2 linked regions of the Homo sapiens genome follow. The protein of the gene in region 1 purifies or fractionates together with the protein of each later gene. This does not show direct contact. Each region holds a gene or a part of one and is shown on either strand. Other genes may lie near its edges. The genes, in order: CD46 and POGLUT1.

Region 1 (3,824 bases):
ACTAATCGTCTCACAAATAAAAATGATAAACTCTGGATAAAAAAAATTTTTTTTTTAAAGACCAAATGTTTAAGGCACTCTGGAGTGACCAAAAGTATGAAGACCATGTAGGGGACTTGCCCATTTAAAGAAAGAAATCACTGAATAACAGTGATTTAAAAGTATATACTCCCCAAGTACACATGAAACATTCTCCAAAGTAGACCATATTCTAGACAATAAGACAACTTTTAACAAACTTCAGAAAATTGAAATCATTCAACATGCATTATCACAATAGAATGAAAGCAGAAATCAATAACAAAGCCAATCCCCAAAGAATTGGAAAGTGTACAGGACACTTCTAAATAACCCATGCATAAAAGAAGTAGTCAGCAGGGAGATTAGAAAGTGTTTTGAATTGAATAAAAACACAACATCTCAAAATATCCAAATATGTAGGATGCAGCTAAAGCATTGCTTACAGGGGAATGTATAGCATAATATACTTGTGTTAGAAAAAAAGAAAAGTCTCAAATCAATGATCTAATTTTCCACCTTAAGAAACTAAAAAAGAGCAAGTTAAATCCCAAACTAGCAGATGTAAGGAAATGATAAAAATAGAGCCAAAATCAATGAAATTGAGAAAAGAAAAAAAAATAGAGGAAATCAGTGAAACCAACAGTTGCTACTTGGAGATCAATAAAGTGTGTAAACCTGTAGCCAGACTGACAAAAAAAGACGCAAATTAACCAATACTGAGAATGAAAGAAGTGGTGGCCAGGCGCGGCACCCCAGCCAGCTTGAAGACCCTGCCCTCCTGCAGCCGGCAGGGGCAGTCACTCCCGGACTTGTCCTTTTAGAAGTTCCAGCTTTACCACTTGCTGGTGGAGCCCAACCACTGCCGCAGGGTCCTCATCGCCAACACGCCTGGCAGATCCAAGAGGAGATGGCCCAGGATGAGACGTGGCACACACAGGCACCCGAGAGTGTGGGGTTGGCGTTGTTCCACTGCCTGGTTTCTGCAGAGATCCTGTGCCTGTGGCCTGTGCCCGCCATGTGGAAGCCAGAGGGGGTGTGCCATGCCCCCCGCTTTGGACACTGCTGCGTGAAGGGGCCAGTTTTCAGACCTTTGCTCTGTCACCTCAGCACTGGCGCCAGGAGCCCTGAAGAGCAGCATCTGGGAGACGGACAGCCCTGGGGAAAATAGAGGAGGCGTTCAGAAGTAGCTAGATGAGATATTTGAAATACTGAAGACCAAAAACCCCAGTTTGCATGGAAGAACTGGCCTCAGATGTGGTCAGTTCCTATGATGACCTGGACACACGGTGCTGACCCACACGATGGGAGGTGGCCCTGCAAAGCATTCAGAGGCTTGGGCCTGCTGCCGTCCGGCCTCCCACCTCCAGCTGCAATTGCATTCTGACCTGGGCAAGTAGGAACACGTAGTGGAGATCCTGATGGAGACCTGAGCCAGGCGTCCCGGAGTGCTGGCCAGGCGTGGAGTACGGGATCCAGCTAAGGGAGACTGGCCAGCCTATAGCCCCCCAGCCTTGCTGGCTCCTCTGCTAATTCCAGCAGGGTCTGCAGCCCCAGACCCATCCCCTTCCTTCCCGTCTGCAGAGGGCAGGCCAGAGGCTGGTCTCAGTGGGAGCTAGGGCTCTCCTCAAGGGCTTTTTGACCTTGGGCCAGTCTTGACATCCCCACAGCCCTGCGCCCCTCATCACTTTTCGTGTCTCTCGGAGACGGCGAGCTGCAACTGCAGCAATCTTGTTTAAATTTAGGTAGGTGAATTTCTTAGAATTAAGTTTCATATGTTTTGAGCAATAAGTTTTCTTAAGATATATATATTTTAATCTTTTTAGTTTTATCTCTGAATATTTTTTATTTTTTTTCAATGTATTTTTTTTCTGGAAACATTCTGTGCTGCTACATTAGAGCCTACACAGTTTAGTTGGTACATTTCATTCTTTTAAGGTTCAAATAAGGGATTTTATTTTCCAGTGAGTTTCCTTGCATTGTTAACAAGTCAACAGCGTTAACGTATGATTTTTTGGTTTTTTTTTTTTGTATACTTTAAATTTGTGTGCAACCCTTCTCATTTATGCCCTGTGTTACAGTGAGAGCTTGGTCAAAGTGGGGAAAACACACACAGCTGCTACACTTTTTTTTTTTTTTTTTGTCATTGGAACATTTGTGCCATGTCTTCCTAGACTTAAGTGTAAATTATGGAGGGTTTTATTTGACAATTTATATGTAAATGTCATTGAAGGCTAAGGTTAAATCTTTGGAAATCACAGGCACCAGTTGATCTTTAGAGACCTCAGATCCCCTCAGGTGGCGCCTTGTGATAGGCGGTGTTCTGGGAGGCTTCCTGTCAGGTTCCACAGCACAGGCACCTGCTCTGGGCACGGACTGAGCTCCTGGGGTGTGCACGGAGCTGCGGTGCGCCAGTCACATGCGCTTGGAAACAGCGTGTGCTGCTGGATTGGAAATGCCTACGTTGCTCTGTTAAATTGGTGCTGGAGCCAAAACCTAAGGTTAAATTTAAGTCTAGAATGAAAGAAATCTGAATCCATGTAATTAATGGCCGCTCGATCTTGAGAGTCCTTGACGGCCCTGCCTCAGGAAGTGAGGTGGGGGTGCCTACACCTTTCACTTTCCTTCCTCACGTCCACCCCGTATGTGTTTCTCATCCTTTTTCTGACTTCCCCCCATCCCTTAGCCAAAAAGCTTTATATTCTTTTGTGCATATGGTCATTCTTTAATATCAGTGATGTAAACTTTACTTGATTACTTTACAAAATTATTCAACAGACAAACAAAAGAATGAAAAAGAGAATATCACTAAATATCCTACAGACATTTAAAGGATGACAAGGGAATATTATAAACAACTTTATGCCTACAAATTTGACAACTGAAATGGACAGATTCCTTGAAAGATACAAAATGTCAAAACTCACTTGAAGATATGGATAACCTGAATACTCCTATATCTACCAAAGAAATAAAATTTGTAGTTAATAACCTACTGAAGGTCCAGATGGCTTCACTGGGGAGTTCTACCAACCATCTAAGGAATAAATCACAGCAATTCTACACAAGCGTTTCAAGAAAGTGCAAGAGGAGGGAACACTTCTCATCCCATTTTATGATGATAGCATTGTCCTTATACGAAAACCAGAAAACAAAAACATTATAAGAAAATTACAAATAATATCCTTGATGAACACAGGACCAAAAATCTTCAACAAAATATTAGCAAACCAAATCCTGTGATACATAAAAAGAAAAGTAAATCATGACCAAGTAGGATTTACCCTATGAATGCAAGATTAGTTCAAATGCAAAAATTAATCAGTGTAATTTGCCACATCAGTAGACTATTAAGGAGAAAAAAAATCATGTGGTTATCTTATTAGATGCAAAAAACAAAGAAAATGTTTGACAGAATTCATCATCTTATTTTTTCATGATAAAACTTCTCAGCAAACTAGGAACAGAAGGGTACTATCTATCTTACCCTGATAACAGACATCTACAAAAATCTCACAGCTAACATTACACTTCATGGTTCAAAAAAATTATACTTAGTGGTAAAAAGTAACATTGTACTTAGTGGTTAAAAAAACCTTACTTACATTTCTGTCTAATTAATAAAGACCTAATTCTGGAAGGAAAACAGTGAGGATGTCCACTCTTACCACTCCATTCAGCATTATATTGGAGATCCCACCCAGTACAGTAAGGCAAGAGAAAGCTATTAGGCACACATGTTGGAAAAGAAGAAATAAAAACTGTCTCTACTCACAATGAGATGCCACTAAATACCTATTGGAAAG
Region 2 (3,824 bases), on another chromosome or scaffold:
TTAAGAATCAGAGAAGTTGGTAAGAAACAGGACATAGTAGCTGGATAATCCATTTACCTCCTAAAGTCTAGCTCCGAAGTGAAGAGGAGGGTGAAGAGGGAGTATAATCTCTGGCAAGGACTCACTTGCTAAAACTACAAAACCCTGCTCCCTTCATGGTCTTTTCTATTCATCTGCTCCACAGATATTTATCATATATTGACATGCTAGGAACTGTTCTTGGCCTTGGGACTATGGAGCTGAACAACACAGGGTCCTCCTACTACCTTTGCCATTTTTCTCTTCTCTTTCCTCCCTGCTCCCTTCTTCATTTTCAGCAGTCTCAGTCTGTGCTCTTAACCACTATTTGGCAGCCACAGGGTGTGATAAAAAAGGCAGTCAAGAGATATGGTGATGAGTCCTGCTCTGCATTAACCAGCAGAGTACCGTGGCATGATCATAAGCTACTCCTAGGGACTGTAAGAAGACACCCATCTGTTGTGTTTGGCATCACATAATCAATGACCGACACATTTGTGACACTATGTAAAATATCTGTTAAATGACTGAAATGGATGAACTTTACTTCTTTGAATATCAACTCAATCAATGGCGATTTCGGCAAATAATGTGAATTATTCTCGAATCTAAAATTGTGATTCCACATTTCTTTCTTTGTTATCTTAGCTTTCCCTTTGAACTACAGAGCTTGTCATACCCTCAAAGTTACTTACATTTTACATTACTTGGAAGAATATCTTTGTAAAATGTCAGAAAATAACTCACCTTGATCCTCGGAAATATGCTGTAGAGTTTTTCTTTTTCCATGGCCACTGTGCTGCTGACCTAAGAATATAGAATTTAATTAGTTTCAATATATCTTTTTCAACTATATAAGAATGTGCTTTAACCATTTCTGAAGATTAGTTCAGAGCTTCATATTTCTTTTTTTTTTTTGAGACGGAGTCTCGCACTGTCGTCCAGGCTGGAGTGCAGTGGCGCGATCTTGGCTGACTGCAAGCTCCCCTTCCTGGGTTCATGCCATTCTCCTGCCTCAGCCTCCTGAGTAGCTGGGACCACAGGCGCCCGCCACCACGCCCGGCTAATTTTGTGTATTTTTTAGTAGAGACAGGGTTTCACCGTGTTAGCCAGGATGGTCTCTATCTCCTGACTTCGTGATCCGCCTGCCTCGGCCTCCCAAAGTGCTGGGATTACAGGCGTGAGCCACTGTGCCTGGCCAGAGCTTCATATTTCTAAGTAAGTCTAATCAAAGTCACTCAAAAGAAAAAGCCCTAAAGGACACTTTGTTTCCTTTTGCTACCATTTCATTGCTCTGGAGGTGCTACCCAGTTGTATCTACAAATCTACTCCCCATTAACAAGTTAACAACATTGAAAGAAAAGCCCCCAAACCCTGAAGGTCATGATTAGGTCTGTTTATAATTTGGCAAATGTGGATTTCCTCTGTACTTTAAGTAGGGTGCTACTGATGAAATTAATTATGTGTACAGAACTGCAAAAAAATAAAAAAGCATCAGAAATGGAATGAAAGGGAAATCACTCTCTGATTTTATGTTTTCCATAGGTGGGAAGTGTCATCAGATTTAGTTTGATATTTGAAAAGCACCTTTGTATTCTTAAAGCCAGACTAAGTGCTCTATAAAGATGAAGTCCTTGAAAGTCAGATCTCAGTACACATTACCATGACCAGCCTTCCTTACTGAAACTGCTAGCTCACAGATGCATCATTCTTAACTTGCTTCGTAGGAACCCTCCCTGCACAGAAGTCTGCACAGCATCTTCTCTGAAAAAGGAAGGGAAGGCTGAACTGAAGTTAATGAGGGATTGATGGGCTGGATTACAGTAACGGAGAAACTTAGGATATAAACTTTCTAGGCACAGGTCCTTTTCAGATACATATAATGTCATGCTGCTCATTTTCACTCAGCTGAGAACGCTGCTCAGTATTTTCCAGGCCCTCAGACCTCCACCCTCAGCCAACGTGGCTCATCCTCTGGCCTTTTCTGGATGGATCACCTTTACCTGATTCTCCAGTCTAAGGCCAGAACTATCTTGTTTTCCCCATACTTCTTCCTGCCCAAGCAGAGACACTATAGCACTGGATTTTTGTTGTTTTGTTTTTAGTGGAAAATGTTTCATGCTCCTCATGCAAAGTTCTCATGAAAAAGCATAAAGATAAAAGTAAGAAGTCGTCTGGAATCTCCCTGTCCAGAGGTAACAATGTAACATTTTAGCCGAGAATTTCCTTGCAATCATTTATTCATATTAGTAGCTTTCAACTGGGGGTAATTTTGCCCGTCCCTCCCACCCAGGGGACATTTGGCCATGTCTGTAGACATTTTTGATTGTTACTACTAGGGGACTGCTACTGGCATTTAGTGGGTAAAGATCAGAAATGCTGCTGAACAATCCTACAGTGGTTAGGACAGCTCCCAGGACAAAGAATTATCCAGCCCCAAATGTCAGCAACACTAGTACTGAGAAACTTTGCTCTATGTAACAGAGGTCACACCATACATACTGTTAGGTAACAATCTTAATAGGAAATATAAATAATAATAACAGCCAACATCTATATAGCACTTCACTATGTTACAGACATTGTTTTAAGTGCTTTGTAAATAAAAAATCATTCTCACAATCTTAAGAGGTAGGTTTTATCACCCCTATTTTACAAATGAGGTCCTTTAGAGGTTAAGCAACTTGCACAGAGTCATGCAGCTAATAAGAGCCAGGATTTGAACCCAGAGTTTTTAAAACCTACACTGCCTTTCCATTCATGCACGATATTCCATTTTATAATCTCTGGCAAAGACTCACTGCAAAAATTCCATTTTATAGTCATGTTATGATTCACTTCATCCTTTATTGATGGACTTTTAGGTAGTTTCCAACTTTCTGCTCTAAGAAACAACATGGTAGTAAACATCCTTGTACACAAATCTTTGCACATTCATCTGATTAATTCCTTAGGATACATTCTAGACATGAAACAGCTAGGTCAAAGGATACACAGTATACATTTCCAATTTTGATACATATTGTCAAACTATCTAACAAAACATGTATCAATTTATACTCAAAGTTACTTCTCTTTATTTCCTTGGCTCCTGGGGAAGCTGTGTTTCATATACACAAACCCAAACTGTGTATCACTGTTCTCTCTCTTTCATTCTCCTAACCTACCCATCCTCCCTCAAAAGACCTAGGTTAGGACTTGTTTCTCCAGGCAAGTGCTAACGGTGGCCACCACAGCCTGGTGCTACCCCAGCCCTCTTTTTTAAACCCTCTCTGACAGTAACAAATGAAATCTTCGATCTGTAAAGAACAATGAATTCTTCTACAGAGTGAAATATAAATCAGTGGGCACAAACTCCCAAAATATCAGAAAAATAGAATGAACAGTGGCAGGCAGACATCAGTGCAGATGGATAAACAAGCAGATTATTAAATTTTCAAGGTAACAAATGAACATCATTAGAGATTCTAAACAGAGGGTTCTAAAAAACAAAATTGTATTTCTATAACCATGAATAAATTCAATTGAATAAAATGGGAAGGTATCAAAAGAAAAAAGTATTCATATAAGATTAGACTTTAAAACATTCTATCTGCCTAAAAATTGCTTACTAGTTTACCTGGGGGAAAATGGTATTAATAACTACACGGTGGAGTAACTGGATAACACCTTGACCCCAGGAGTTTGAGTCCAGCCTGGGCAACATAGTGAGATCCTGCCTTTTAAAAATAAACAAACAAACAAATAAATAAAGTGACTCTTTCATATGTACTGACATGAAACAAAGACATGGAAAGATTACTTAG

The links.
Region 2: the proteins of CD46 (region 1) and POGLUT1 fractionate together in Homo sapiens (co-fractionation; one large-scale study listed by BioGRID). This does not show direct contact.

The regions. Positions count from the first base shown.
Region 1 is NC_000001.11:207,761,813-207,765,636, forward strand, and holds part of CD46 (membrane cofactor protein isoform 3 precursor), read left to right. Parts: intron 1-3,824. UniProt on the Homo sapiens protein: Acts as a cofactor for complement factor I, a serine protease which protects autologous cells against complement-mediated injury by cleaving C3b and C4b deposited on host tissue.
Region 2 is NC_000003.12:119,482,329-119,486,152, reverse strand, and holds part of POGLUT1 (protein O-glucosyltransferase 1 precursor), read right to left. Parts: intron 826-3,824; coding exon 766-825; intron 1-765. UniProt on the Homo sapiens protein: Dual specificity glycosyltransferase that catalyzes the transfer of glucose and xylose from UDP-glucose and UDP-xylose, respectively, to a serine residue found in the consensus sequence of C-X-S-X-P-C.